2 linked regions of the Homo sapiens genome follow. The main gene of each other region encodes a partner of the protein of the gene in region 2 in a complex. Links are inferred from orthologs where the notes say so. Each region holds a gene or a part of one and is shown on either strand. Other genes may lie near its edges. The genes, in order: POR and HMOX1.

What was found.
Region 1: the proteins of HMOX1 (region 2) and POR are in contact, whole or in part, in a crystal structure (PDB 3WKT), measured with the Rattus norvegicus proteins. The link is inferred for Homo sapiens from one-to-one orthologs. Residues at the interface, in NP_036712.1 of Rattus norvegicus: Asp12, Ser14, Glu15, Gln38, Ala75, Pro76, Glu81, Lys149, Ile150, Lys153, Ser171, Asp173, Asn174, Thr176, Lys177, Phe178, Lys179, Gln180, Leu181, Arg183, Ala184, Arg185, Asn187, Thr188; in NP_113764.1 of Rattus norvegicus: Thr88, Thr177, Asp208, Asp209, Arg313, Arg514, Lys515, Gln517, Arg519, Leu520, Phe522, Lys523, His626, Lys665, Met667, Thr668, Lys669, Gly670, Tyr672.

Annotation. Positions count from the first base shown.
Region 1 is NC_000007.14:75,972,498-75,987,355, reverse strand, and holds the end of POR (NADPH--cytochrome P450 reductase), read right to left. Parts: intron 7,906-14,858; coding exon 7,777-7,905; intron 7,018-7,776; coding exon 6,868-7,017; intron 6,309-6,867; coding exon 6,184-6,308; intron 5,840-6,183; coding exon 5,750-5,839; intron 5,133-5,749; coding exon 5,034-5,132; intron 3,837-5,033; coding exon 3,720-3,836; intron 3,619-3,719; coding exon 3,500-3,618; intron 2,580-3,499; coding exon 2,398-2,579; intron 2,299-2,397; coding exon 2,149-2,298; intron 1,778-2,148; coding exon 1,507-1,777; intron 1,434-1,506; coding exon 1,288-1,433; intron 1,198-1,287; coding exon 1,115-1,197; intron 1,020-1,114; coding exon 875-1,019; 3' UTR 501-874; downstream 1-500. Other genes in the region: TMEM120A (transmembrane protein 120A), read left to right, coding at 133-324. UniProt on the Homo sapiens protein: This enzyme is required for electron transfer from NADP to cytochrome P450 in microsomes. It can also provide electron transfer to heme oxygenase and cytochrome B5.
Region 2 is NC_000022.11:35,371,007-35,387,008, reverse strand, and holds the start of HMOX1 (heme oxygenase 1), read right to left. Parts: upstream 5,914-16,002; 5' UTR 5,836-5,913; coding exon 5,813-5,835; intron 3,904-5,812; coding exon 3,783-3,903; intron 325-3,782; coding exon 1-324.

The sequences.
Region 1 (14,858 bases), on a different chromosome or scaffold from region 2:
GCCGGGGTCCCTGGACAGGATGGATGGGGGGCCAGGCCCATGTCCAGCCCTCACCCTATTCCTCCGGCAGGTGCTTATGTGCGGCTTTCCCTTCCTCCTCCTTTTCCTCGGCAATTTCTTCACCACCCTGAGGGTTGTGCACCACAAGTTTCACAGTCAGCGGCACGGGAGCAAGAAGGATTGAGGCTGGGCCTTCCCCTGCCGGCCCAGAGGGGCTTCTGTCCTGTGTGTTGTGGGAGGGGATGGGAGGCGCCCCTCGAGTGTGCGTGTATCAGGGGGTCTCTTCTATTCTCCCTTGGGTTTTATGGGCGCTGTGGGCCCTGAAGGAAGACCTGGGCCCAGTGCCCTCAATAAAGAGAGGCCCAGAGGTGGCCTGAGCGTGTGTGTTCTCCTGGGGGAGGGGAGGGCTGGGTGGCCCCACCACATGGGTTCCTGGGGTCTGAGTTAGTTAAGTTGATGCAGGTGGAGGTCCCAGATCTACTCACACAATACCAGGCAAATACAGAAAACAGAACTTTATTCCAAGGGCCAGAGGTTATTTAAAATTATTTACACTCACTGGAAATCACGTGGAGGGGCTGGGCCCAGCTCAGCAGAGAGAAAGAGCCCTTCTGTGCAGCCACCGAGGGCCAGAGGCCTCCAGAGGCATGGAGCCCGGTGCCCCCATGCAGGCCCTGGGCTGTGCTGCCAGGGGCCGGTGGACCTCACCTGGCCTGGGGGCTGAGGAGGATGCACCCCAGGCCCAGAGGAGTCTTTGTCACTGGGCCTGCGCCCATGCCAAGGCCAAGCCAAACACACCCAGGAGACTACGGGAGGGAGCCAGGAGAGCTGATTACAGGCCGGAGTCTGTGGGGTGGGTGGGGCAGGCAGGCCCCTAGCTCCACACGTCCAGGGAGTAGCGGCCCTTGGTCATCAGTTTCTTGATGTAGTCCACCGCCTGCGCGTGCTCCATGGCCCCGAGCTCAGCCACGATGTCGTAGAAGGTGTTCTGCACATCCCTGGCCATGTTCCGTGCATCCCTGGGCAGGAAGAGGGGGTGCTGGGGGCTGGGCCAACTGTGGCAGGCAGGGCCTTGTCCTCCCTGCCCCCTATTCCAGTGACCCCACTCACTCACCCACAGACGTAGATGTGGGCACCGCCTTCGATCAACTTCCACAGGTGCTCTCGGTCTTGCTTTAGCAGGTGCTGGACGTAGACCTGGGGCCAAGGGTGGTGCTGTGAGGGGGGCACTGTGGCTGTGGCCCTGCCAGCCTCATGCCCACCTTCGTGGGTGCCCGCCCGTCTCACCTTGTGGGACTGCTCCCGGGAGAAGGCCACGTTGAGCTGGGTGAGCGCACCGTCCCTGTGGAACTGCGCCAGCTCCTCCCGGTACAGGTAGTCCTCATCCGAGCGGCGGCAGCCGTAGTACAGCAGCGTCTCCCCCACCTCCTTGCCTGCGTGGCAGGGGCCGGGGTGAGCGCGGGGCTCCCAGTCGTCACCCCCTCTCCCCCATGGGACCCCACTCACCCTGCTGTCGCAGCCAGGCCCGCTCCTGGATGAAGCCTATGAAGGGTGCCACCCCGGTGCCGGGGCCCACCATGATGACAGGCGTGGTGGCCTTGAAGGGCAGGCGGAACTGGGACTTGCGCACGAACATGGGCACCAGCGCACGGCCGCCGTTCTCCCCGGCAGGCTCCTTGGCCCGCAGCCAGTTGGTGGCCACGCCCTTGTTGATGCGGCCAGCCTTGGTCTCGTACTCCACAACCACCGCACAGATGTGCACAGAGTTGGGGTGGACCTGTGGGGAGGGCCGTGTGAGCTCCACCGCCACACCGAGGCCCTTGCCCAGCCCCGGCCCCAAGTCCCGTTCTGCAGGCCAGCCCCACTCACCCAGGGCCTCTTCCAGCCCACCTGGCACCCAAACCTCAGAGGCCCCCTCCCCAGCGGCTTCCCGGACTGGTTCTGGGGACCGGGGCTGGACAGATGCTGAGAATCTCACAAGCCAGCCCGACTGAGTCCACAGCCTGGGGAGGCATTTGGAGCTGCGCTGGGGCTGGAACTGGAGCTCAGGGCTCAGATCTCGGAGCTCCTGTGCCGCCTTGCACTCTGCCTGCTGTGAGCAGGGCTGGGCCTCCAGCGTGTGGCTGGCAGGGCAGTGCCGGCCCTCACCTTGGAGGATGAGGCGATGGAGTAGTAGCGGGCCTGCAGGCGCGGCAGCAGCTCACACAGGTGGTCGATGGGGGGCCGCAGGGACGGGCAGTCCTGCAGGATGGCCAGGATGTGCCTCCGGGCCTCCACCACCCAGCTCAGGTACAGCTCCTAAGAGACACGGGGGTGAGATGGGGCTGATTGGGGCCCACGGAGCTCGGAAAACGGCGGGGTGACGGGGCGGAGGTTGCGGGGGCTGAGGGGGCGCACCTTGCCCTCGCCGGAGGAGGAGGCCATCTTGCGCAGCAGCTCCTGCTCCGAGGGCTCCGAGGCGTACTGCGCCAGCTCGTACAGCACGTTGGTACGCGGCGGGTTGGTGATGTCCAGGTAGTAGGTGAGGGCCGTGCGGTAGGACGTAGGGCACGGGAATGGGTGCTTCTTGTTGGACTCCTCTGCAGGGAAGAGACAGGCAGGACTTGGGGTAGGCGGCCGCCTCCTGGGGATGGGTGGCTGCGGCAGGAGGGGGTGACACCTTGGGCCAGCTCTGCGGCAACAGGTGCCCCAGCTGGTGCTGGAAACAAGGCCTATGCTCTCTGATGCCTCCCTGGCCCTGGGGCCAAGTCTGGGGCCTCCAACCAGACAGGAAGTCCTCATCAGAGGCAGGACCCTGCTAGGGGAGGTGCGGGGGAGCCCCTGCACACTAACGCACCCGCTGTGCTTTCACCGCACACTACACGGTCTGACACAGCCCCGCCCAGGCTTCCCTACAGGCGGGCTGTGGAAGCCGACAGTAAGGGCAGCCCTGGCATGGCAGCTGAGGACCGGCAAGCAGGGGTGGGGCGAGGTGGGCTCGGCCCAGGTTGGTGACCAGTGGGGTCCGAGGGCTTCACAGCGGGAGGCTCAGGCTGGGCAGCCCCACCAGGCCCAGGCAGCCCCGCGTAATGGCTACTGCCACTCGGCACCACTGTGCACCCTTGGGGGCCTGGGAGGGCTGCTGACTCCTGACTTCAGTGAGGAGGTGGGGGCAGCCCCAGGCCGGCAGAGGTGGGTCGTGGAGCCAGGCCCTCCTTCCCAGCAGGACACAGTGGCCATGGGGGAGCCAGGGCTGCCTCTGCCACCAGGCCTCAGCACCTCACTCCCTTAAAGGACTATGACAGTGACGGGGTAGGGGGAACCCCGACAGAGAGGGCTAGACCCCTAGGGCCACCCCGCCTCCCGTTTGCTTGGGATCCTGTAACCGTGGAGTCTCGGTGCAAGGGCCTCCCAGGCACCGGGGCTTCAGGCCTAAGCAGAAGCTCAACCCAGGGCCTTCCTACAGGCCCAATCCCGCGGCTGCCTGAGCCCGGCAGGGCGCCCTGACTGTGGCACTCACCATCCAGGTTGTTCAGGGACATGACGACGTCCAGGTCGGCACCCAGGATTTTGCCCAGCTGGTTGACGAGAGCAGAGTCGTTGGCTGGGTACACAGCCACGTGGTCCCCAGATTCATACCTGGAGGGAGATGTGAGGCTCGGGAGGGGCGGAAGGCTGGCCCTGCCCCAGGTCAGGAGGCCCAGAGTGAGGGTTCAGGGGGTGACAGTGGCAGCTGGTACCTGATTTTGGAGTCCGAGATGTCCAATTCCAGGTGCATGAGGTGGCGCTCGGTTCCCTGGTTCAGCTTCCGGTTGGTGGTGACTGCAGCCAGGAACGGATTCTTGGCATCAAAGGGGCTGGGTGGGGAGGAGAGAAGCACAGTGAGCGGCCGGGGCTTTGATCTGAGTCTCCGTCTCCAAGGACGCTTCTGGTTGCACAAAGCACAGGGAATCTCAGAGATCTCCATGAGGAAATCTCACCGGTTACATCAAGGGCTCTCCCAGCCTGGTCCAATGCAGTTCTCTTTTTTTTTTTTGAGACAGAGTTTCGCTCTGCCACCCAGGCTGGAGTGCAGCGGCGCGATCTCGGCTCACTGCAACCTCTGCCTCCCAGGTTCAAGCAATTCTCCTGCCTCAGCCTCCTGAGCAGCTGGAATTACAGGCATTCGCCACCATGCCTGGTTAACTTTTATATTTTTACTAGAGACGGGGTTTCACCATGTTGGCCAGGCTGGTCTTGAACTCCTGACCTCAGGTGATTCACCCACCTCGGCCTCCCAGAGTGCTGGGATTAGAGCTGTGAGCCACCTCGCCCAGCCCTAATGCAGTTCTCTCTATAGTCCCACCACATGGGCAGAGCTGGGTCATCAGTGTCTGTTTACAGATGTGGAAACTGAGGCTGGCCCCTAAAAGAACTGTGAGGCCCAAGCTGACGGTGCCACAGGCTGGAAGGTGGCTGGTCCCCAAATGAGGAGCACAGCTCCCCCACCCCCACACGTCCTGGACTACACCGTGGACAAGAGAGAAACTTGCACTCCGGAAAGCCACCGACATGCAGGGCTTCTCGCTCCAGCCAGGCTGGGGCAGGCCTACAGAAAGCAGGGCAGCTGGTCTTGGATGCAGTGGCACGAGGACTTCCCTGGGTGGCTCGGGCAGGAATCTGGGCAGCAACCAGGGGCCATCAAGGGCACAGAGAGGAACGCCAGGTTTCTCCCCCAAGTCTATCTATGGAGATAGATTCTAAGAAAATGAGCCCTTCTGCCAAAGAGGATCCTAGCCACAGAGGCCAATGCACTGTCCTAGTCGAGAAGTGGGATGTGCCCCGCTGCCCTGGGCAGTGCAGAGTAAGGTGGCTAAGTGAGCTCAGTACAAACTGGGCGAGTGCCAGTCTCCTGGGGCCGGGCCGTGGACAGGTCGTGGACACTCACACCCACTCGGGGCACGGGGTCTGGTGAGAAGGGCCCTGTGGGGATATGGGGATACACGGCAGACTGAGCCTGGGGTGCACCAGTGGCCATAGAGCCGTCTGCCCCAAGCCACGCTCCCTCCACTCACGGCTTCTGGTTCTCGTAGCTCTTCAGCCGGCCCATCTCCCCCATGTACACCTTGGCCGCATCTATGTCGGTGTGGACCACAAGCTCGTACTGGCGAATGCTGGAAAGGGGAGACCAAGGGTGAGGCCGGGAAGCGGCAGGGGTCAGTCCCGAGAGGGAGGGGTTGGACTACAGGGGAGACCGTGCATGGCCTTTGGGGTGAGGTCCCAGGTACATACGACAAGAAGCAGGGGAGCCCCTGCTGCAGATGCACAAGGAGGGCAGGCGAGGGAGCAAGGAGGGAGGCGGCGTGGAGCTGCCGGGGGCCAGACGCCCAGAAGCCGGGGCAGGGCTGGGCAGGCTTCCATCTGGGAGAAGGTAAGGAAGCCCGGGCAGCACCCAGGGGCCATCAAGGGCACAGAGAGGAACGTTATGTTTTTGGCCAAGTCTGTGGAGGCAGATTTTAAGGAAATGAGCCCTTTTGCCAAAGTTGAACCTAGCCACAGAGCCCGACGCGATGTGTCCTTGTCGAGAGGTGGGATGCACCCCGCTGCCCCAGGGCAGTGCAGAGCAACGTGGCAGAGTGAGTCCTTGGCTGGGACCAAGGTCCCTCCTCGACCCTATGACGGAGTGTCTTCTAACCTTGCTGCGACCCACTGCCAGCCCTTGTTCCAGGGTGGCTGCCCTCGGCACAGGACCCGCCCAGGCCACCCACCGCACCTGCGGGCACTTGCTCACCTGGACTCCTCGCCAGTGGCTTCCACCCCAAAGTGTTCACACACGGCCGGCCAGAACTGCTCTCGCCAGGTGATGAAGTCCTCCTCCAAGCTGGGCCGAGGAGAGGAGAGGGGGAGCGGCTCAGGGGAGGCCCATGTGGCAACGGTACCTGGTGCCAGGCACGCCCCGACCCCACCCCATCCCCAAAGCTCAGGACTGTGCACCCTGGGGCACCCAGCGACATAAACCCAGAGCATCAGGAAGGCTCCAGGGAGTTGGGCAAGCCGAAAAGCAAAACTGGCAGGGGCAGGGCAGAGGCAGGAGAGCCCCTTCCCTCTGTGTTGGAGGTGCGTGTCGCTGAGTCTCAGCTGACACAATGGTGTGCGCGCCCCTCACGTTCCACGGCCCCTGCCTAAGCCCGCCGCGCTGATCATGGTGGCAGGGTGGGCACTCACTTCCCATCGTCGTCGCCCAACCCCAGCTCAAAGATGCGCTGGGCGCCGAGCTGCTCCAGCCGCTTGTCCACGTACTTGCCCATGGCATTGAAGTGCTCGTAGGTCTTGTTCCCAAGACCAAACACCTGCGTGGACACAGGGGCCGCTCTGAGGCCTGGCCCTCGACCTGACCAGTGGGAGGGGCCATGGGGGCAGGGCGGGAGGCCCCACAGCACTGGCTGAGCTGCTGGCAACACCTGCAGGCCTCCGTTCCACCAGGCGCCTCGCACTGCAAGGAACACTGGGCCACTGAAGAGGCTTCATCTGGTTGACCTGCAGCCCACAGCCTGCCCCGTCCACTGCCAGCCTCAACCCACAGGGAAGCGGGGCCAGCCCACCCTCCCCACCGGGCTGGGGCTCCAGCTCTCCGAGGCCAGGCAGGTCTCAGTCGTCCAGCCAGACCTTTCTTGCCTTTAGTCTCCAGCACCCAATGCCCCCTGGAGCCGACTGGGGCTGGGGACAGGGAGGGGACATTCTCGTAGTGCTGGGGTCTGGGGCAGAGGAGAGGGTCTCACAAGTGGCCTGCCCTGGCTGCTGAGGACAGGGTGGGGGTCTGGAGGGCTGCCTTTCAGATACATGGATCTGGAGTCCCCAGGGAGGCACCGCAGGCCACCGGGAGCCCATAGCAGTCTCTGGGTGACTCACCGCGAACTTGACCCCAGAGAGATCCACGTCTGTCTCCTGCAGCCAGTCGTAGAAGTCCTGGGCATTGTCGGTGGGGTCTCCCTCACCGTAGGTGGCCATGCAGAAAACCACCAGGGCGTTGTCGATCTCTGGCAGGCTGCTCAGGTCGGCCTGCAGAAACAGGGACAGGACCGCGCCCCGGCCATGACTGAGCCTGTTCAAGGTTCAACCCGCACCAGATGGGGAAGGCCAGGTCCTGCCCAGGGTGGCACCAGGCCAGGGATGTCTGAGTGTCGTGGGATCAGAGAGAAGTAACAACACGGAGGGGCTGGGGCATGGGCATTTGTGCCAGGTGGGCAGGACAAGGTCACCCGTGTTAGGCTGGAGCGGAGAGGATGTGTTTCTAGAGGAAAGTGAAGCTTGGCACAAAAGAGCCATCAGAATGCAGCCTCCTGAGCTGATGCAGGTCTGGGGCCACCCTGGGAACCTCATTCCAAAGCTCCCAGGCACCGCACAGCCCCGGTGCACACTGATATCTAACTAAACTGTTCATCAACTGCAAATGCAGCCTGGAGAGGGCTGTGGGGTAGTGCCCGTCACCAAGACCTCGAAGGAGAGGGGAGTGGAGCAGCTGGGGAGGGTGGGTTTGGTTTGGGAGATGTGGCGGCCGCCAGGAGGGCAGCCGGCACTCAGGGGAGGGCCAGTCCTGGGGAAACGATGCCTGGCACGTGGCTGCAACTGCAGGAATGGCCCTTCCGTCAGTCAGCCCGGGCAGGGATGGCAATGACCCTCACGGGAAGGCAACTTCCGAGGACGTCTTCCCAGGACCCCACTCCCTGCCGGCCTCCCCCTGCTGAGGGGCGCCCTACAGACCTGCTCCCTGTCCTACCCACTGCCTCCATCTGGGGCCAGCACGCGGTGGCAGCTTACCAGGTCATACTCCTCAGGGTCCGCTGACATGCCTCGCATCCCGTAGCGGTGGGCGTCCTTGGACAGGCGGTTGGCAAACTCCTCTGCAGTCCCCGTCTGGGAGCCGTAGAACACGATGATGTTCCTCCCCTAAGGAAGGCAGACACAGGGTTGGTGAGGGCCACAGACCTCAGCCACGGCTCCGGTGAACACCCACTGGGCAGGCCTGGCAGGCGGGGGCCCTCCAGGCCGCCCCCTTTCCTTCCTGGCTTTGAGTCCCTTCTAAGTTCCTCTGGGACTTGCTTCTCACTGTCACAGCCACTGTGGCAAAGGAGGGCAAAGGTCACCAAGGCAATCTCACACACGCGGCTGCTCAAGATCACACTTCTGACATTTTCATGACACGGGGAAAAAACAAAGTTAAAAAAAGTAACCAAATGTATAGCCCCTATCCGTGGGGGAATGGTTCCAGGACCTCCCATAGATACTTACATCCAAGGATGCAGCCGGGCGTGGTGGCTCACACCTGTGATCCCAGCACTTTGGGAGGCTGAGGCTGGCAGATTACCTGAGGTCAGGAGTTCAAGACCAGCCTGACCAACATGGTGAAACTCCATCTCTACTAAAACTACAAAAATTAGCCGGGCATGGTGGCGTGCACCTGTAATCCCAGTTACTAGGGAGGCTGAGGCAGGAAAACAGCTTGAACCCAGGAGGTGGAGGTTGCAGTGAACTGAGAACACGCCACTGCACTCCAGCCTGGGTGACAGAGCAAGACTCCACCTCCAGTGGCTCACGCCTATAATCCCAGCACTTTGGGAGGCCAAGGCGGGTGGATGACTTGAGGTCGAGAGTTCAAGACCAGCCTGACCAATATGGAGAAAACCCTGTCTCTACTAAAAATACAAAATTAGCCGGGCATGGTGGCACATGCCTGTAATCCCAGCTACTTGGGAGGCTGAGGCAGGAGAATCGCTTGGACCTGGGAGGCAGAGGTTGTGGTGAGCCGAGATCGCGCCATTGCACTCCAGCCTGGGCTACAAGAGCAAAACTCCATCACAAAAAAACCCAAAAAACAAAAATCCAAGGATGCTCAAGTCCCTGCTATAAAATGATGTGGTATTTGTGTGTAGCCTACACACATCCTCCAACATACTTTAAATCATCTCTAGATTACTTATTAATGTAATACTTAATGTAATGTAAATTCTCTGTAAATAGTTGCTATGCTGTATTGTTTAGGGAACAGTAAGATGACAGTATGTGTTCAGGACAGACACAACAATCCATTTTTTCTCCAAATATTTTCAGTCTGCAGTTGAATTCTTGAACTCCGAACTCACGGATATGCAGGGCTGGCTATACAATCCAATTGTGTTATATAAATAATAGATATGTATATCAAAACATACATATGTATTTTCTTTCTATACCCACAGGCACAAAGAAAACAGACTGGCAAGAAATATACCGAGGGTCCCTAAATGGGGCATTCTGGATGTGTTTTGCTGGTTAAATACATATTCATTATAAAATTTTACAACAGGGAAAGGTCCTAGGGGCTGGCTCACATACTCGTCAGTCCACCCTCCTCCTCCAGCAGCTGTTGAAAAGCCTGAAATCCTATTCCCCAGAGCCCGTTGGGGCTGGAGTTGCAGCCAATTCGGTTCAGCCAATTGAACGTGCTTTGCAAGATCTGAAGGGTGGAAGGGAGGCCAAGGCTTCCTGGCCCCTCATGCACATGTGAGGTTCTCTGCAGTGCCTGGTCTTCAGTGCCTAAGGCATTTTTCTTTTTTTCTTTTCTTTTTTTTATTTTTGTGTGTGAGACGGAGTCTCGCTCTGACGCCCAGATTGGAGTGTAATGGCACGATCTCAGTTCACTGCAACCTCTGCCTCCTGGGTTCAAGCAATTCTCGTGCCTCAGCCTCCTGAGTAGCTGGGATTACAGGCACCCACCACTATGCTAGGCTAATTTTTTTGAATTTTTAGTAGAGACTGGGTTTCAACACGTTGGCCAGGCTGGTCTCGAACTCCTGACCTCAGGTGATCTGCCCACCTTGGCCTCCCAAAGTGCTGGGATTACGGGCGTGAGCCACCGCACCCAGCCACCTGAGGTATTTCTAATAGTTTTGGTAGCCAGACTGCAAGTTCCTAGTCCTGGCTACTGGCTTATGTGATGTTCAGAGGCAGCTGTAGAAGTAGCTTCTTATCCTGGATCACAGCTACACGTGGTGTGTCCTGAACTCAACAGTTTCAGGCTGCATTCGAACAGAGCAGCTACCTTGCAGGTTGCTTCTGTGATATCTTAGAGACCAACCTGCTCCTTCAGCCCCTCCAGTAACCTGGAAGTACCCCCTTCCCTGTGTGAAATCCCTTCCAGATTAAAATGCCTAAAGTAGTCTCTAGTTTTCACACTGAATCCCACCTCATACAAAATAAAACTTACGCGGCCGGGTGCCGTGGCTCACTTCTGTAATCCTAGTACTTTGGGAGGCCGAGGTAAGAGGATGACTTGAGCCCAGGAGTTTGAGACCAGCCTGGGCAACATGGCAAAACCCTGTCTCTACTAAAAATACAAAAAATTTATCTGGGTGTGGTGGCGCATGCCTATGGTTCTAGCTACTTGGGAGGCTGAGGTGGGAGGATCACTTGAGCCTGGGAGGTTGAGGCTGAAGTGAGCTGTGATTGAGCCACTGCACTCCAGCCTGGGTGACAGGAGTGAGACTGAGTCTCAAAACAAAACCACCACCAAAAAAAACTTAGGGATTACAATAAATGTTCTTATACTTTTTAAAGTTCCTGAATTTTCCACAAATCATTGTTAAATCATTAAAAATTGTTTTTTTTTTTCTTGAGACAGAGTTTTGCTCTTGTCGCCTAGGCTGGAGTGCAGTGGTGCGATCTCGGCTCACTGAAACCTCTGCCTCCTGGGTTCAAGCGATTTTCCTGCCTCAGCCTCCTGAATAGCTGGGATTACAGGTGTCCGTCACCATGCCTGGCTAATTTTTTGTGTTTTTAGTAGAGACAGGGTTTCACCATGTTGGTCCAGCTGGTCTCAAAGCTCCTGACCTCAGGTGATCCGCCCGTCTCAGCCTCCCAAAGTGCTGGGATTACAGACATGAGCCACTGCACCCGGCCAAAAGGATTTTTTTTTTTTTTAGATGGAATCTTGCTCTGTTGGCCAGGCTGGAGTGCAGTGGTGCGATCTTGGCTCAATGCAACCTCCGCCTCCCGGGTTCAAGTGATTCTCCTGCATCAGCCTCCCGAGTACCTGGGACTACAGGTGCATGCCACCACGCCCGGCTAATTTTTGTATTTTTAGTAGAGACAGGGTTTTCGCCCAAAAGGATATTTTAAAATAATCACCGTAAAAATACTTAATAGAAGAGAAAGTGCTCATGATTATCAGGTTAAGAGAACAAAAGATGACCTAAGATAGCAGCTAAATATTTACAGGAGCATCAAAATATATAAAATACCTAGAAATAAACTTTGTAAGAGATGTGTCAGAAGCTACTGAACTACACACAAAGGACTCACGCCAATGGAAAAGCACCCCGATTATGGACAGGGAGTCTCGACCCACAAAAATGGCAGCTCTATTTATGTCACTAGAGAAATGTGGCATGATGTAATAGAAATCTGAACCAGCTGGGTGCAGTGGCTCACACCTGTAATCCCAGTACCCTGGGAGGCCACACCAGGAGGACTGCTTAAGCCCAGGAGTTTGAGAACAGCCTGGGCAACAGAGTGAGACCCAGTCTCTACCAAAAAAAAAAAAAAAAATCTGAACAGCTTTTTTTTCCTCAACAAATTGATCCTAAAAGTCACGGAAAAATAAGTAAGAATCCATATATTAAAACATTATTTGGCAATAAAAAGGAAGTACTAACATATGCTACAGTGTGGGTGAACCTTGAACACGTTGCGCCCAGTGAAAAGAACCCAGAGACCCAGCTATTATTATTATTATTTGACACAGGGTGTAGCTGTTGCCCAGGTTTGAGTCCAGTGGTCACTGCAATCTGTGCCTCCCAAGCTCAAGCTATCCTCCCACTTCAGCCTCTCAGGTAGCGGGGACTATAGGTGCGCACCACTGTGTCCCACTAATTTTTCTATTTTTTGTGGAGATGGGGTTTCGCCATGTTGCCCAGGCTGGTCTCAAACTCCTGGGCTCAAGCGACCTGCCCATCTCGGCCTCCCAAAGTGTTGGGATTACAGGCATGAGCCACTGCGCCCAGCCCAGGAATTAAGTATATGATAAAGGTGGCATTTCAAACCAGTGGGGGAAAGATGGACTCTAATACATGGTGTTTAGACAGCTATGTAAAATGTAGAGTTGGATTCATACCTCACATCTTACATCAGGATAAATTCCCAATAGATCAGATTTTAAATTTTGAATATGAAAAACAAAACCCTAAAAGTACTAGAAAAAAAAAATACAGGAATATCTTTATCTCTTTAGCATGGGGAAGACCTTCAAATTATGACTCTAAGACCAGAAGTCACGAAAAGAAAGAATCATATAGGTGACTCTGTAACTTTTACACAGCAAAACAAATAAAAATGCGATCAGCTAGGTTGAAAGACAAACTTTTTTTTAAGAGATGGAATCTCACTAAAAGACAAACTCTTTAACGGGCAAGATATTTTCAACTTATATCACAGACAAGAGATTCATCTCCCTAATAATTTCAAGGAGAAAGATCAATCCCAACAGAAAAGCAGGCAAAAGATGTGAAGAGAGAATCTATTAAAAAAAGAAAAAAGAGGCTGGGTGCGGTGGTTCAGGCCTGTAATTCCAGAACTTTGGGAGGCCAAGTTGAGTGGATGACCTGAGGTCAGGAGTTCGAGACCAGCCTGGCCAACATGGCAAAACCCTGTCTCTACTGAAAATACAAAAGTTAGCCAGGCATGGTAGCACGCACCTGTAATCCCAGCTACTCAGGAGAATGAGGCATGAGAATTGCTTGAACCCGGGAGGTGGAGATTGCAGTGAGCTGAGATCACACCACTGCACTCCAGCCTGGGCAACAAAGCGAGACCCTGTCTCAAAAAAAAAAAAAAAAAAAAGAAAAGAAAAAAGAAAAAGAAACGAAGCCATCTAGACCTAGGTGGGTGAAAATCTACTGAATCTCATTCATAAAAATGTAAATTACAACTATACTGAGTTTTTTTTTTAAGCCTAGAAAACTGACAAAAATCTAAACTTTAATAACAAACTGTTGGCAAGGCTGTGGGGAACAGTTTTCTCACACGTCGCTATTCTTGAGCGCGTGCCACGGTGTGACTCCTACGGGGACGATTTGTAGCTTCTATCACGATTGCAAACACATCTACCTTCCAATCCAGCAATTCCACTTCTGGGACTGCTTTGTATTTGAAATGTGCAAACCGAGCTACATATTCACAGTGACATTGTTGGTAAGAGCCAAAGAGTAGCAACAGCCCCAGTGCCCATCTTTAATAGGACAGGGTTAAGTGCGTTACAGTGAATCCAGATGGCCATATAATGGAATCATGGTACAGCTAAGATGATGGCAGTATCTTTGTATTGATATGGAAGGATCTTTGAGACATATCAAGTTGTTTTGTGTTCTTTTTTTTTTAAAGCAAGGTCAGCCGGGCGCAGTGGCTCACGCCTGTAATCCCAGCACTTTGGGAGACCGAGGCAGATGGATCACGAGGTCAGCAGTTTGAGACCAGCCTGGTCAACATGGTGAAACCCCGTCTCTACTAAAAATACAAAAATTAGCCAGGCACGGTGGCAGGCGTCTAACCCCAACTACTCCGGAGGCTGATGCGGGAGAATCACTTGAACCGAGGAGGTGAAGGTTGCAGTGAGCCAAGACCGTGCCATTGCACTCCAGCCTGGGCGACAGAGCGAGACTCTGTCTCAAAAAAAAAAAAAAAAAAAAAAAAAGCAAGGTCTGGAACAGTGCACATAGTATGCCACGTTTTGTGTTTTAAGAAAAGTGTAGGCTGGATGCAATGGCTCGCACCTACAGTCCCAGCACTTTGGGAGGCGGAGGCAGAAGGATTGCTTGAGGCCAGGAGTTCAAGACCAGCCTGGGCAACATAGCGAGAACCTGTTCCTATGAAGAATAAATTAAAAAATTAGCCAGGCGTGGTGGTGTGCACCTGTAGTCCCAGCTACTTGGGAGGCTGTGGTAGGAGGATGGCTTGAGTCTAGGAGTTTGAGGCTGCAGTGAGCTATGATGGCGCCGCTGCACTCCAGCCTGGGCAACACAGTGAGACCCTGTCTCTAAAATAAAATAAAGGTTTTTTTAAATTAAAAATAAGAGTCTCTGTTTGTTTTACTTGTATGTTCATACAGGAACTCTAGAAGGATCCATAAATAATAAGAACAGTGGGGATGAGTGGGTGGCAGAGGGGAGCTTTCCACTGAATAGTGGATGTTTTTATTTTAACTATGTAAATGTAGTACTGATGCCTACAATTAAATAGTTAAATTGGCTGGGTGCGGTGGTTCACGCCTGTAATCCCAGCACTTTGGGAGGCTGAGGCGGGCGGATCACCTGAGGTCAGGAGTTCAAGACCAGTCTGGCCAACATGGTGAAATCCCATCTCTATTAAAAATACAAAAATTAGCTGGGCGTGGTGGCACGCACCTGTAATCCCAGCTACTCGGGAGGCTGAGGCACGAGAATGGCTTGAACCCGGGAGGTGGAGCTTGCAGTGAACCGAGATTGCGCCACTGCACTCCAGCCTGGGTGACAGAGCGAGATTCCATCTCAAAAAAAAAAAAGTAACAAAAACAAAGCGGAGAGAAAATGGCAGTGGTGCCACGACCGCAGCTCTGTGAGATTTACCTCTGCTCCTGGACAGGCCAGGGCCAGACGGGAGAAGCTTCGTGAGTTAGAGGGAGGGTCTGTTCTTAGACTTTGGTTTGTTCAAAAAGTAAAGATTCAAGGAAACAAACTGTCCCAGCAACAGCAGAGCTGCTTCAGGGCTTTGGTTAGGCAAGAATGACTCCCAAGCGAGCCGGGCTGCGTTCCCTCTCCTGGCCACCGGGACATCCTCTATGCGGTGACGCCAGCCGTCTGCTAGACTTGATTACATGCCCATCGGGGCCGAGG
Region 2 (16,002 bases):
GTCCAGGGCTTTCTGGGCAATCTTTTTGAGCACCTGGCCCCCAGACAGGTCACCCAGGTAGCGGGTGTAGGCGTGGGCCACCAGCAGCTCGGGCTCTGTGCGCCCCACCTCGTGGAGCCGCTTCACATAGCGCTGCATGGCTGGTGTGTAGGGGATGACCTCCTGCCAGCGGGGCCCGTACCAGAAGGCCAGGTCCTGCTCCAGGGCAGCCTTGCGGTGCAGCTCTTCTGGGAAGTAGACAGGGGCGAAGACTGGGCTCTCCTTGTTGCGCTCAATCTCCTCCTCCAGGGCCACATAGATGTGGTACAGGGAGGCCATCACCAGCTGAAAGCAGAGTGAGCAGGTCAGGCCGCCAGCCACATAGAAGACCCCCACCTCTGTCCGTCCCGTCCACTACTGCCTTTGGAAAGGCCCTCCTCACTTCGCAGCTGGGCTCTGACTCCTTCTGCCACCCCTCGCTACAATCCTCTTCACACAGCAGCCAGAGGGGTTTTTACAAGAGGAAAAGACGATCATGCACTTTCTCAGCCTAAAAACCTTTTACCCCACTGGGCAAAACAAGCAGCCTAATTGAATCCTTATATAAAGATCTAACAAACTGGCCCAGTGTGGTGGCTCAAACCCCTGTAATCCCTGCACTTTGGGAGGCTAAGGCTGGAGGATTGCTTAAAGCCAGGAGTCTGAGACCAGCCTGGGCAACATAGCCCAAAACCCACCTCTACAAAAAATTATTTTAAAAAACTAGCTGGCTGGGGCCAGGTGCGGTGGCTCACGCCTGTAATCCCAGCACTTTGGGAGGCCGAGGCGGGAGGATCACAAGGTCAGGACATCAAGACCATCCTGGCTAACAAGGTGAAACCCCGTCTCTATTAAAAATACAAAAAAATTAGCCGGGCGTGGTGGCGGGCGCCTGTAGTTCCAGCTACTCAGGAGGCTGAGGCAGGAGAATGGCGTGAACCCGGGAGGTGGAGCTTGCAGTGAGCTGAGATCTCGCCACTGCACTCCAGCCTGGGCAACACAGCGAAATTCTGTCTCAAAAAAATAAATAAAAATAAATAAATAAATAAATAAACTAGCCAGCTGGACGCGGTGGCTCACGCCTGTAATCCCAGCACTTTGGGAGGCTGAGGCAGGCGGATCACGAGATCAGGAGTTCGAGACCAGCCTGGCCAAGAGACCAGCCTGGGCAATATGGTGAAACCCTATCTCTACTAAAAACACAAAAATTGGCCAGGCATGGTGGCAGGCACCTATAATCCCAGCTACTCGGGAGGCTGAGTCAGGAGAATTGCTTGAACCCAGGAGGCAGTGGTTGCAGTGAGCCGAGATCACGCCATTGCGCTCCAGCCTGGGCGACAGAGCAAGACTTTGACTCAGAAAAAAAAAAAAAAAAAAAAAAGCCAGGTATGGCTGTGGGGGTGCATGCCTATAGTCCCAGCTACTCCAGAGGCGGAGGCAGGGGTATCACTTGAGCCCAGGATTTCAAGGTTGCAGTGAGCTGTGATCATATCACTGTACTCCAGCTTGGGGAACAGAGTGAGCAAGACCCTGTCTCAGAAAAAAAAAAAAAAAAAATCCAACAAAGGAATTGCTATTCCCATTTTACAGAAAAGGAAACTAAGGCTCAGAGAGGGTATGAGACATGGAGGTTGCACAGCTAGTAAGAAATGAAACTAGATTGAAGACCGGGCATTGCCAGGGACCCACCATGGCTCAGGAGAGGGGAACAGCTGAAATGAAAGTGCTTAAAGGAGATTGGCCATGTGCTTCTGGCTTTTGACCTCTGCGTAACCAACTACAGGGCACAATTCTCCTTCCTGGAGGCCTATTCTGAACCCCACCACCTCTGCATGCTGGGCTGAGGCAACAGGTCTTGAGTGTACCTTGGCTTGGGGCACTAACTCCCGTTACACATTAATACGCCCGTTTAAATTTGAAGGAGAACAAAGTTAAGACATTTAGGTTGGAGTTTCTGAGTTATTTCTGAGCCACAAACATTCAAAGCAGCTCTATTCCTTGAGGGGACAGAAAGCCAGGCAGTCTGGTACAAAAGAGCCTGGGTTTTTGAGTGTGACGGACCTGGTTCTTACCCAACTCTGCCAGTCCTTAACTGTGTGACCATGGGTGAGCCACTTGCTTTCTCTGGTCCCAGCTTCCTATCCTATCCTAGAGCAGATGATCTGAGGTCCGTGTGACTGTGCTAGCCAACTGTGCTAGTCAGTTCCCTCACCTGCCACATACTAGATGGGGCTGGTGTGAGGATTAAGTGAGAGGATCTGGGCCAGCACAGAGGGCAGCCTGGCACTTAGCGCTCACATGAGAAGGGCTGTGATAAGTGCCACGTCCACCAGCTTAATGTAAGTGAGCACTGGATTCTCTCATGGATCTTGGCGCCTCCTTAGAACCCTGTGACTTAGAGGCAAAATCCAAAGTCTAAGCTGGCTGGGGATGGGATATTCCAGCATTCACCTCCCTGCACCCACTGTCTCCAGTCACACTGCAGCAACTGGGTGTACCTCATCTTTTTAAGGGAGAGGGGAGGAGGATGAGGAAGACCCATTACAGGCCCAAGGACCCCACCCAGCCTGGAACCACAGATTAAATCTCTCCTCATTAAAGCATGTCTCGGCCGGGTGGTGGCTCACACCTCTAATCCCAGCACTTTGGGAGACCAAGACGGGTGGATCATCTGAGGTCAGGAGTTCGAGACCAGCCTGGCCAACATGGTAAAACCCTGTCTCTACTAAAAAAATACAAAAATTGGCCAGGTGTGGTGGTGGGCACCTGTAGTCCCAGCTACTTGGGAGGCTGAGGCAGGAGAATCGCTTGAACTTAGGATGCGGAGGTTTCAGGGCACCGAGATCTTGCCATTGCACTCCAGCCCGGACAACAGAGTGAGACTCTGTCTCAGATAAAATAAAATAAATAAAGCATGTCTCATGTTGGAAGTAGGGGGTGGCAGAGGGTGCAGATTGCAAAAGGGACTGGGATGAAGGTGGTGGGATATAGCTCCCTACTCCCCACCCCCACACCCTCTGTTCAACCTGAACAAGCTCTTCCCCACGCTGATGTTTTAACACCCAGTATCTTCCCGGTTCTTCATCAAGTGCTTTCCTTCTATTTGCATGAATTTCACAACAGTGCTGGGAAACAGCAAAATCAGTACCTGGCATATAGTGGGTGCTTAAGAAAACCCTGCTGTTGAAATACTCTTTTACAGATGGGGAAAACGTGGCTTAGGGAGATTAGATGAGGCACCCTCAGTCTCACTGTTAGAAAAGGGTTCTGTTAAGACTCCAACCTATATTATTCCTTATCTTCAGAGGCAAATTCGAGTTAGATCAGGAGTACAAGCTCTGAAATACAAGGAGTACAAGGCTGAAATCGGTCTTGGTTGATTTCAGCCTTTTCCACTTACTGGCTGTGTGACCTTCTGTTAGTCACTGAACCTCTCTGAGCCTTCCAGTCCTCATCTTTCTCGTCAGGGTTGAAGCACAGATTAGAAACCACGTGTACAAAATGCCCAACATGGAACCGGTGCTCAGTCAACGGCACTGCTGCCCCAGCCCCTCCACAACATTACAGAGCAGGCTGAACTTGCTGTGTGACCTTGGGTAACTCACCTTCCCTCTCTGAGCCTCAGTGTCATCATTTTTAAGATGATTCTATTGGACATGCCCATCTGGTCCCTCAGCATCCCCACTTAAACCACTGGTCTGAGCCTTGGGTCCACCCACACCTGCCACACCCTCCACCAGGGCTAGTCCCACCAAGCCACATACCTTGAAGCCGTCTCGGGTCACCTGGCCCTTCTGAAAGTTCCTCATGAACTCAGCATTCTCTGCCTGGGTGTGCACCTCCTTGGTGGCCTCCTTCAGGGCCTCTGACAAATCCTGGGGCATGCTGAGGAGGAAATGGGAAAGGTGAACACAAAGCTGGCTGGGGGTGGGGTCCTTCCCAACTGCTGAGCCTCCCACCTGTGGGCAGGCCTTCAAGAGACTCCCATCCTCATTCAGGCCACGTTCTCAATCGCTTTAAGATGCAGCCTTGTGGCTGGGCACGGTGGCTCACGCCTGTAATCCCAGCGCTTTGGGAGGCCAAGGCAGGTGGATCACCTGAGGTCAGGAGTTCGAGACCAGCCTGGCAAACATGGTGAAACCCCGTCTCTACTAAAAATACAAAAATTAGCCGGGCATGGTGGCAGGTGCCTGTAATCCCAGCAATTATGCCTGTAATTGCTTGAATCCCGGAGGCAGAGGTTGCAGTGAGCTGAGATCACACCACTGCACTCCAGACTTGGTGACAGAGAGACTCCATCTCAAAAAAAGAAAAAAAAAGAAAAAAAGGGCCAGGCATGGTGGCTCACGCCTGTAATCCTAGCACTTTGGGAGGCTGAGGCGGGCAGATCACCTGAGGCCAGGAGTTTGAGCCCAGCCTGGCCAACATGGTGAAACCCTATCTCTACTAAAAATACAAAAAAAAAAAAAAAAATAGCCGGGCATGGTAGTGGGCGCCTGTAATCCCAACTACTTGGGAGGCTGAGGCAGGAGAATCGCTTGAACCCAGGAGGCAGAGGTTGCAGTGAGCCGAGATCGCGCCACTGCACTCCAGCCTGGGCAACAGAGCAACACTCCATCTCAAAAAAAGAAAAGCAAAAAAGCAAAAAAACAAAAAAACAAAAAACAAAAAACAAATTCAGGCTGGGCATGGTGGCTCTCGCAGCTTTGTAAACACTCTTCAGTCATTAAAACACTAAATAATACAGTCCCCCAAACCAAGGGGGAAATCCTGGTACAGGTAGTTCGCAGTGGAGAGGAGGAGGAGGTACAGCATAACCCAGGAAGAAGCAGCAGCCCCATGAACCGGCATCTCCAAGTTTGTAATTGCTTTGATTGGCTTTTAGACCCAATATTTAATTCAGTTATTTTGTTAAAGTTCCAGATGCAAATCTCATGACCCCCTATCATGTTATGCTCATCATGAAGGCGTCAGGGTTAAAAAGCCTGAGAAAGTCTGCTTTAGTCAAAGAAAAAGTCTTTCTGGGAGTATTTCTGTCATGGGTCCGTATCCCTGCCTCCCCACAGAATTGTCATTTTTCCCTTTTCTCCTGCCCTGCTTCCCTGTTCTACAACACAGCTGGTCAAAGTCTCAGGAGAAATGGCACATGTCTGTAAGTCCCAGCTACTCTGGAGGCTGAGGTGGGAGGATGCTTAAGCCCAGGAGTTAAAAAAAAAAATACTAACAAATTATTGAAAGAAGGGAATGAGTGAGACCTGGAGGTGGGCAGACCAAGGTTCAAGGCCCAGTTCTGACACCAGCTAACTGAGCACTCTTGGGCATGTCGCCTCCCTGAACTGGGCTATCTGTGAGACATGGAACACCGCAGCCAGGGTGATGTCTGGCTCAGGTCCTCCGTAGCTAGTGAGGGACAGATGCCACCAAGAGAACCAAGCATGCTCCCCCAGGCTGGCAGAGCCCCAGAGATCTAGATTCAGCAGAGAGCAACTCCAAACACACCTCGAAAGTAGGATTAAAAAAAAAATTGGCTACCTCAAAGACTGGATACTCTAGGGACACTCCCATCTTGGTCACCAACCGCATACCAGGGTGCCAGGCATGTAAATTACCGTTCCTCCCTCCAACTACCCTACGGGCACAGGCAGGATCAGAACCCCGCACCTCCTGACTCCAGAGCCCAAGTTTCTGGCTCCTGGGCTCTGTCGCTGTGTGGCAGTGTCCCGGGGTGGGGCTAGGACGCAAGCAGGGTTGGGAGAGAAAGGCGCCCGTCCCGCGTCCCGCGCCCCGCGCTTGCCTGTCGGGTTGCGGACGCTCCATCCGGCCGGTGCTGGGCTCGTTCGTGCTGGCTCCGCGGGCGGCGGCTGCGCTGAGGACGCTCGAGAGGAGGCAGGCGTTGACTGCCGGAGCCGCGGCCGGTCACATTTATGCTCGGCGGGTCACGTGGGCCAGGCGGAACAGCTGATGCCCACTTTCTGGCCGGGCGTTGCAACACCCGCAGGGGCCCGCGCCCAGCCCGCCCCGGGCCAGTGTGGGGTGGAGAGGAGCAGTCATATGACCCTTGGGAAACAAAGTCTGGCCATAGGACTTTTAGAGAAAACACACACACACACACACACACACACACATACACACACACACACACACACACACACACACAAAACCTTTAAGGAAATCTGAGAAGCTGCAGGCTCTGGGTGTGATTTTGCTCCTTCCAGAGCCCCCCCTTCTGCTCCCTGTCCCCTTGGGACTTGATGCACCCCAGGCGTCCCAGAAGGTTCCAGAAAGCTGGGAGGCAGCGCTGCTCAGAGCAATAGCCTGGTGGGCAACATCAGGAACTTAGCAACCCCAGGCTCTGCTGTCTCCAGCTCCCTAAAATGTCACCTGCTGGAATCCTCTGCTGACTGCTTGCCTCCTCACACCCTCTTTAAATGTACATTTAGGATCTGTTTTTTGAGTTCCTGTCAAAAAACAGAGACTCTAGTATTTTCATGGTTCATCCCTACAACTGACCTGTGAGGGTAGATCGCTTCTATTTTACAGATGGGGAAACCGAGGCTCAGAGGGGTGCAGTGGTGTCACACATAAAGCAGGATGCCAGTGTCCAAACCCAGGGAGGAGACTAAGTCCCCGCCTGCCTCCTCCACACTCTGGCAGCACCTGGTATCCGCCTGGACTGGGACACCTGTCATACAAACTGCTTCCCTGCTGGAATGCGTGGGACACTCTTCCAGGCACATTCAGGTCTGACTTATACTCAGTGCCTGCTCAGGGCCCAGAGCAGAGCTGGCCCTTGCTGATCGCCTATTGAATCAATTCTGCATGAGGTGGACTCCTTAGAACTCGGGGGAAATAGGGTCACTGGGTGAACCCAGAGGACAAAACGAATGGACCAGATGATTCATACAGTCCTTTCCCAATACTGTGATTCTCATTCTAAGATTTTTTTTTTAAGATGGCTTTCAGGCCTGGCATGGTAGCTCACACCTGTAGTCCCAGTACTTTGGGAGGTTGAGGTGGGAAGAGCGCTTTGAGCCCAGTCGAGGTGGGAAGATTGCTTTGAGTTCGAGACTGGCCTGGGCAACATAGGGAGACCCTGTCTCTACAAAATATAAAATAAATTAGCTGGGCATGGTGGCACATGCCTGTGGTCCCAGCTACTTGGGAGGCTGAGGCTGGAGGTTCACTTGAGCCTGGGATGTAGAGGCTGGAGTGAGCTGTGACCACGCTACTGTATTCTAACCTGGGCAACAGAACAAGACGCTGTCCCTCAAAAAAAAAAAAAAACAAAAAAAAAAAAAAAAAACTTCCTGGAATTCAGCCTAGGGCCACTACAGCCCAGAGGCACTTCTGAGATTGTATTGGAAAGGATCATCCTCCCAAGGGTGAGCTAAGGGGCCTTGAAAAAAATTCCCCTTCTTCCTCTGAAGGTTCCCCGAAAACCAACCGACAAAAGTCAGGTTAAGAGGAGAAAAGACATACAAAAATGTATTGTAATGGGGTAATCACGGAAGAATGGTGACCCTGTAACCCAGTGGAGTACAGAGGCTACCCAGCCTTTTTTATAGGGGAGAAGGGAGATAGGGAATGCAGACAATTCTTTTGAAAGACAGTAAATCATTAGCAAGAAGGAATGGCCCTGGAGGTGAAAGGCCGACTTTAAGGGAAGGTGGAGGTGGAGCCGCACAGGGACAAAGGTTGTCCTAGGCAGATAAAGTCCCCCAGGTAATCTCTTGGCACTGTCCTCAGAAGAACAGGTAAATCTGTCTGGGTCTGGTGATGACTCCCAGTCTCTTTCTCTCTCCAGTGGTTGATCTTTCCTGGATATTTGATGAGATTACTAGAAAAAGGGCTTAACACTGGCCGGGCGCGGTGGCTCACACCTGTAATCCCAGCACTTTGGGAGGCTGAGGCAGGAGAATCGCTTGAACCCGGGAGGAGGAGGAGGTTGCAGTGAGCCAAGATAGTGCCACTGCACTCCAGCCTGGGTGACAAGAGCGAGACTCTGTCTCAAAGGAAAAAAAGACTTAACACAATTGCATTTCTTTTGTAAAGAAGTGTTCTTGGTCAGATAAGGAAATTCCAGAGAGCGTCTCTCCCTGTGCTTGTCGGGGGAACAAGACAAGCTTACAGGGACCTTGACTCTGAGGCAGCTCCTAAGGCCTCTCATCATGTCAAAGCACCAGTTGTCCTGGTATCACTTTCTGAGCCCCAACAGTGGCATGTAAAGCACAAAGGTGGAGACCTTGCCTACTACTTTGCTTTGTAAATTCCCAGTTCCTGGAATAGTGCCTGGTAGGTCACAGTTAATACTGAATGCATGCCTGAATGAATAGATGCTTCAAGGTCTCTTTCTGGGAAAAAATAATAATATTGTTAGGCTGTAATATTGCTGGGCTGATAGAATGGGCTGGAACCAAGCCACAATTCCAAACTGTCATTCTAACCAGCCTTTATTGAGAATTTACTATGTGCAGAGACTTCACGCGCGTGATTGCAGCCCATCCTGACAACAGCCTTGCAAGCTATTTTCATCTCTATTTTGCCCACATGAGCACTGAGGGACAAAGAGGATAAGTCATTTTCCCAAGTCATACAGTTAATGATGGAAGAGCCAGGATTCAAACTACAGCACTTTGAAGCCAGTCCCCACAGTCCTGACCACCACACTCCAACCCTTCTCACAGAGGGTCCAGGAGTTTAGGGGAGATGAGTTTGCGTGTATAGATCCAGAGTCTGTCCATTCAGCGACCCTAGAGGGTAAAACTCATGAGATCTGAACCCTTTTTATTTAACACAGGGAAGCAGGGACCCCAAGAGCAGGAGGGACTTGGCCAGGCTATGCCCCCCATTGGAAAGAGAACCTCCAGTGACCCAGGGTTCCTGGCTGCCGGTCTGGGCTTGCTTTCTTTTCTAACTGTTCTCTGGGAGCCCCAGACTTCGTTAGAACAGCCCCCCACACAGTGGGTTGCTGGGGTGCAAGAGGCCAGGCCAGAGTTGTTCTGGTCCTCTAGGCTGTCCCAGGGCTGAATTTGTGGCCCTTTCGCATGCTGATTCAGCCTCCTGACTTCCCCTTCTTTTTAGTCAAGCAACAGGATGATCCAAATGCTATTCTCTCTCCTCCTGCTGGGCCAAATAAAAGCCCCTTAAAGGTGTCCACATTCTAATCACCAGAACCTGTGAATAGGTTACCTTTTTGCTACCTTACATAGCAAAAGGATCTTGCAGAAGTGATTAAGTCAAGGATGTTGAGATGGGGAATTATCTTGGATTATCCTCTTGGGCCTTATAAGAGGGAGGCTGGATGGTTGCACATACAGAAGGTGACAAAGAAAGCAGAGGACAGAGAGAGAGACTGGGAGATGCCATGCTGCTAGCTTTGAAGATGGAGGATGAGGCTGGGCACGGTGGCTCATACCTATAATCCCAGCACTTTGGGAGGCTGAGGTGGGCTGATCACCTGAGGTCAGGAGTTCAAGACCAGCCTGACCAACATGGTGAAACCCCCATCTCTACTAAAAATACAATAATTATCCAGGCAAAAAAAGTAGAGAACTTTCTCCTGCTGGAGGCAGAAGAGATGAGGCAGATGCAGAAGTCAGAGAGATGTGAAGCATAAGAAGGCCTCGGTGGATTGCAACATTAAATCAGGGGCAGATTGAGGTGGACTTCACAGGGTGGGAGCTGGGGGACCCAGCAGGGGAAAGGCACAGACTTAGAAAAGACAAACAAGAGGCTTCTGCCGTTTTCTAGAAGTTTCACTTCCTCCTGCCTACCATTAAAGCTGCCCTTTCACCTCCCACCTAAAGAGAAGCTGAGGAGGCACTGGTGACTCAGCAAAATCTAGCAAAATCCGCCTTCCCTTTGTTTCCGCGAGTCCCCCCTCCCAAACATGACGCAGCAGAAATGCAGCTGCACGAGGGGATGAGGAAATCGCGACTCAGCATTCCCAAGGCGCCTTCAGGAAACAGAAGTGGTTTGGGCAGCAGGGAGGGGGGCGGGTCAGTGACTCGCCAGCCCCTAACAGTGAAAAACAAAGGCGAGGCCCTGGCGTGGGAGGAATCATGGGGAGGCCTCTTGGCCAAGCTGGATGGTGGCTAAGGAGAGTGAGGAGACCTTGCCTGGATATTCTCCTCAAGCAGGGGACGTCCCCAGTAAATAAGGTCACAGACGGTGTCCTGACCACACCCACACCCCACACAGACCCAGAAAGAACATGTGCTCGATTCTGCAGGGCAGGGGCTCCAGTGAGGGTCTACAGCCTAACTGCTGTGTGACAGGCTGGAAAACAGCCTTCTTCAGCAAGGAAGACAAGCCCAAGTTATTTTTTAAAAATCCATAGACTGGGCCAATTGTGGTGGCTCACGCCTGTAATCCTAGCACTCTGGGAGCTGAGGTGGGTGGATCACCTGAGGTCAGGAGTTCAAGACCAGCCTGGCCAACATGGTGAAACCCCATCTCTACTAAAAATACAAAAATTAGCCGGGCGTAGTGGCAGGTGCCCGTAATCCCAGCTACTCGGGGGAGCTGAGGCAGGAGAATCGCTTGAACCCGGGAGGTGGAGGTTGCAGTGAGCTGAGATTGCACCACTGCATTCCAGCCTGGGTGAAAGAGCAAGACTCCATCTCAAAAAAAAAAAAAAGAAAAAGAAAAAAATCCATAGGCTGAAGTGCAAAACACCGAACCCTTCTGATGCCAAAACACCCCATAAATAAGGTTGAAACCCTACCAACAGACTGGAAGGAAGTGTTTGCCACACATATAACAGACAAAAGATGAACATTCCTAATAAAAGAGCTCGCCAAAGCAATACACACACACATACGCATAATGTATATAGAATTATATAAAATTCTAGAAAATTATGCAAGCTAGTCTAATTGGATCACTGGTTACCTAGTTGAAGTGAGGGGATTACCAAGGAGTACTAGGAAACTTGAGAGTGATGAATACACCCTTTATCTTGATTGTGGAGATGCTTTCACAGGTTATAAGTTGTGTCAAAATTCATCAAATTGTATACTTTAAATATGTGCAGTTTATTGTATGCCAATTATATCTTCATGAAGCTGTAAAACAGATTCTACACAGGCTTTCCTGAAGCTCTTCTCCTCACATTATGGACCCCTCCAGGGGCCCCAGTTGCCCCCACCTCCGTCCTGACTGTGAGCTCCTTGAAGTCAGCAAGGGCCATGTCAGATTCACCTTCTTATGCCCTTAGCACAAGCCAGGCTTTCACTACATATTTAATCAACGAGGCTTAGCAAGCAGGGTGAAATTCCCTGCCTAATATCACACAGCTCACCCGGGATTTGAGGCCAAGTGTGTCTGGCTCACTCAGATTCCACAGCATCGCTGCCCTAGGAGCCCCTGGGCCCGAGGCAGCAAAGGGCATAGAATGGCAACATCTTTTCCAAACATCGTGCAGCCTCTATTAGCACGTACCCAGTGACCGAAGACCCACAGCCAGACAAGAAGGCATTCTAGCCTTTGAAGGATGCAGACTACCAGGCCAGTCTTGCCAAAATGGAGCCTGACTATACCTCCCAGATCTGGTATGCCCTGGTTCAACCTGATCAAGGTACCATTAGGATAGTATAGACTAGCTAAAGCAATAAACTCTAGGCAAAAGGACTGCAGTCAAATCCAGGATCCATGACTTCCCATCTGTGTACACTGGAACACCCTAAGCTTTTATTTCCTCATCTGACAAAATGAGGAATAATAACAGCATTGACTCAAGGGGATGTGGTGAGCATGAAATCAGTTTGATGCATGTAAGAAGCTTACAGTGAGGCTTGGCAGAGGAGGCACACGGTAAATGTTAACCGTTATGTTGGTCAGAGAGGCATCCAGCTCCCCTTTCATGATTCAGCCAGAGCCTTTTTCCTATCTAGAAATTTCTGGATGATTCTGCAGTAGGGCGGGGGTCACTAACATCCAACAAACCTTGATTTCAGTCAGGAGTTTTGAATCTCAGGTTCTTCATATTTACCTTTTTTTTTTTTAGATGGAATTTCGCTCTTGTTGCCCAGGCTGGAGTGCAATGGCACTATCTCGGCTCATTGCAACCTCTGCCTCCTGGGTTCAAGCGATTCTCCTCCCTCAGCCTCTGAGTAGTTGGGATTACAGGCATGCACCACCATGCCCAGCTAATTTGTACATTTTTAGTAGAGATAGGGTTTCACCATGTTGGCCAGGCTGGTCTCGAACTCCTGACCTTAGGTGATCCACCTGCCTTGGCCTCCCAAAGTGCTGAGATTACAGGCGTGAGCCACTGCGCTCGGCCTGTATTTACCTTTTCCTCAAAAAGTAAACTTCTCCGAAATAATTTCAAATGTCCAGAAAAGTCGCAAGCATAGTACAGAGAATTTCTATACACCTTCATCCAGATTCACCAGTTGTTAGCATTTTGTCACATTTGCTTTATCGTATTCTCTCTTGATATACTATGCATATATATTTTTGAATATATACAGATATATATATCTCCTCCTGCCTCCATCTCCTGAGTATCTAGGACTATAGGCTCATGCCGCCACACCTGGATAATTTTTTTCATTTTTAGTAGAGATGGGGTCTTGCTATTTTGCCCAGGCTGGACTCCAACTCCTGACGTCAGGGGCAGTCCTTCTGCCTTGGTGTCTCAGAGTGCTGGGATTACAGGTGTGAGCCACCATGCCTATCTACCCCCAAATTATTTAGCATGTATTATATCTGGAGTGCAGTCCCTGACATATGGTTATAAAAATCAGGAAATCTGGCTTCGATATAAATTCATTATATTGTAGAGGAGGCAAAATTTTACCTATACCCTTTTAGAGTTTTCTGCTGGGCCTGAGAATTAAACTGACATGAGACAGATTAGTAGGAGAAAAGCATACACATTTATTTAACGTACATTTACATAACACGTGAGCCGTCCTAAGGAAAAGAAGACTCAAGGAAACAGAGCCAAACACTTACATGCAGATTTGGACACAGAGTAGTAAACTGTGAAAACGTGACAAGGCAAAGTGGCGTGGGTGTGGGTTAGGGTGGTTAACTGGGTAGAGAAGAGACTAGGAAGAGCTGGCTTTAACAAGCTTTGTTTGTACAGATTTATTTTGGCTTCAACTTCCTGCCATGGATGAAAGGAATGCTAATTTTCTCCTCGTATAGAGAAAAGTCTTCCATATGGAATTTCATCTCTTGCTTTCAGGAAGAAAAAAAGAAGGTCAGAGGCTCACTGCAACCTCTGCCTCCCAGGTTCACGCAATTCTCCTACCTCAGCCTCCCTAGTAGCTGGGATTACAGGCATGCGCCACCACGCCCGGATAATTTTGTATTTTTAGTAGAGATGAGGTTTCTCCAAGTTGGTCAGGCTGGTCTCGAACTCCTGACCTCAGGTGGTCTGCCTGCCTTTGCCTCCCAAAGTGCTGGGATGACAGGCCTGAGCGACCATGCCCAACCCACAGCAACCTTTTTGCACCTGATTTTGTTTGTTTGTTTTTAAAGTGCCTTTATCCCAAAATAATCCTTTTTTTTGAGACAGAGTCTCACTCTGTTTCCCAGGCTGGAGTGTAGTGGTCTGCAACCTCAATCTCCTGGGCTCAAGCAATCCTCCTGCCTCAGCCTCCCAAGTAGCTGGGATTATAGACATGCACCACCATGCCTGGCAAATTTTTTATATTTTGTATTTTTTGTAGAGACAAGGTTTCACCACGTTGCCCAAGCTGGTCTGGAACTCCTGAGCTCAAGCAATCCCCCCACAGTGGCCTCCCCAAGTGCTGGGATTACAGGCATGTGCCACCACGCCTGGCCAGCTCAAAATAATCCTTAATCAATGAATGGGGAGTGGTGGCACACACCTGTAATCGCAGCTACTTGGGAGGCTGAGGCACGAGAATCGCTTGAACCTAGGAGGCAGAGGTTGCAGTGAGCCGAGATTGTGCCACTGCACTGCAGCTTGGGTGACAGAGACCCTGTCTCAAAATAATAATAATAATAATAATAATGATCCTTAATCCAAAGTGGCACATTTTGGGTGGCATATCCTGAACTCCTTCAATATAAAGCCTATATTCAAATGTCCCCTATTGCCCCAATAACCTCCTCTTTAGCCGTTTTACCAGTCCAGGTTCCAGCCCAAGAGGTTGCATTGCATTCACTTGTCCTGCCTCTTTGGGTTCCTCAGCCTTTGAAGTTTTTTTTTTTTTTTTTTTTTGAGGCGGAGTCTTGCTCTTTCGCCCAGGCCGGACTGCAGTGGCGCGATTTCGGCTCACTGCAAGCTCCGCCTCCCGGGTTCATGCCATTCTCCTGCCTCAGCCTCCTGAGTAGCTGGGATTACAGGCGCCCGCCACCACGCCCGGCTAATTTTTTCTATTTTTAGTAGAGATGAAGTTTCACCGTGTTAGACAAGATGATCTCGATCTCCTGACCTCGTGATCCGCCCGCCTCGGCCTCCCAAAGTGCTGGGATTACAGGCGTGAGCCACCGCGCCCGGCCTTGAAGTTTTTGAAAATGACAGGCCGGCCATTTTAACAGATGCCCCTCCATTTGAGTAGCTCCCACCTTTAGGTTGCAGCGCCCCCGCGCCCCGCTCAACAGCGATTTAAAGTGTGAAGCCCCCAGCACAGCGCCTGGCCCGTGGCAGGCCGTCGGGAGATAGAGGTTCCCTAAAACAGTGGTGCGGGGAGTAGCAAGAGGCTAGAGGAGGAGTGAGAGGAAGGGTGGAGGAGCTGCTATGGCTTCCCTAGGATTCAGGCCCCAGACGAGGCCGAGGACGTGCTGGCTGAGGCATGTCCCGACTCCAGACTCCAGCCGGACAGTCCGGACTTTGCCCCAGGGGATTAAACCTGGAGCAGCTGGAACTCTGAGGAAAACAAATCTCTAGACCGTGACTCAGCGAAAACAGACACCGGGACCGTGACTCAGCGAAAACAGATCTCGGGGCGGTGACTTAGCGAAAATAGACCTCGGGACCGTGACTCAGCAGGAAAAACACGGCCACGTGGCTCGGGAAAGGATTACTCAGCAGGGGCAGAGCGGCGCCAGATGGGCTGGGCGCGGCGAGCGGGTGGGGGGCGGGGTAAGGGGGGGTACGCCTGGGCGGGGGGGGGGGGGGCGGGTGGCATCGCGCCCCAGGCTCTGGGGACAGTGTGCCTTTCTTTAGGACCTGGCCCCTGCCTCTTCGACTCTCTAAGCTCTAAAGGGTGGTTAACAGCCTTCAGGGCTGCTGGTAGGCTTAAGTGAGCCCAGAAGTGAGCAGAAGTGAGAACTGCCTAGTAGTTGATACTCACCGGGTCCCTTAACAAAAAACCTTGAACGAATAAACAATGCCTCTGCCAATCACAGGCTCGGCAGCACCGTGGGAACTTTTTTTTTTTTTTTTTTTTGAGATGGAGTCTTGCTCTGTCACCCAGGCTGGAGTGCAGTGGCACGATCTTGGCTCACTGCAACCTCTGCCTCCTGGGTTCAAGCAATTCTCTGCCTCAGCCTCCCGAGTAGCTGGGATTACAGGCACCCATCACCATGCCCAGCTAATTTTTGTATTTTTAGTACAGATGGGGGTTTCACCATTTTGGCCAGGCAGGTCTTGAACTCCTGACCTCGTGATCCACCTGCCTCAGCCTCCCAAAGTGCTGTGATTACAGGTGTGAGCCACCGCACCCGGCCTTTTTTTTTTTTTTTTTTTTGACGAGTCTTGCTCTGTCGCCCAGGCTGGAGTGCAGTGGCGTGATTTCGGCTCACTGCAACCTGTCTCCCAGGTTCAAGCAATTTTCCTGCCTCATCCTCCCTAGTAGCTGGGATTACAGCTGTAATTATACCACATCCGGCTAATTTTTGTATTTTTTTAGTAGAGATGGGGTTTTATCATGTTGGCCAGGCTGGTCTCGAACTCCTGACCCCAGGTGATCCATCTGCCCATTATGGGAACTTCGATAGCTGCCTGGGAAGGTGGTGGTCGCTATTGAGTGATTTGAGATCTCCCTCAGCTCAATTCAG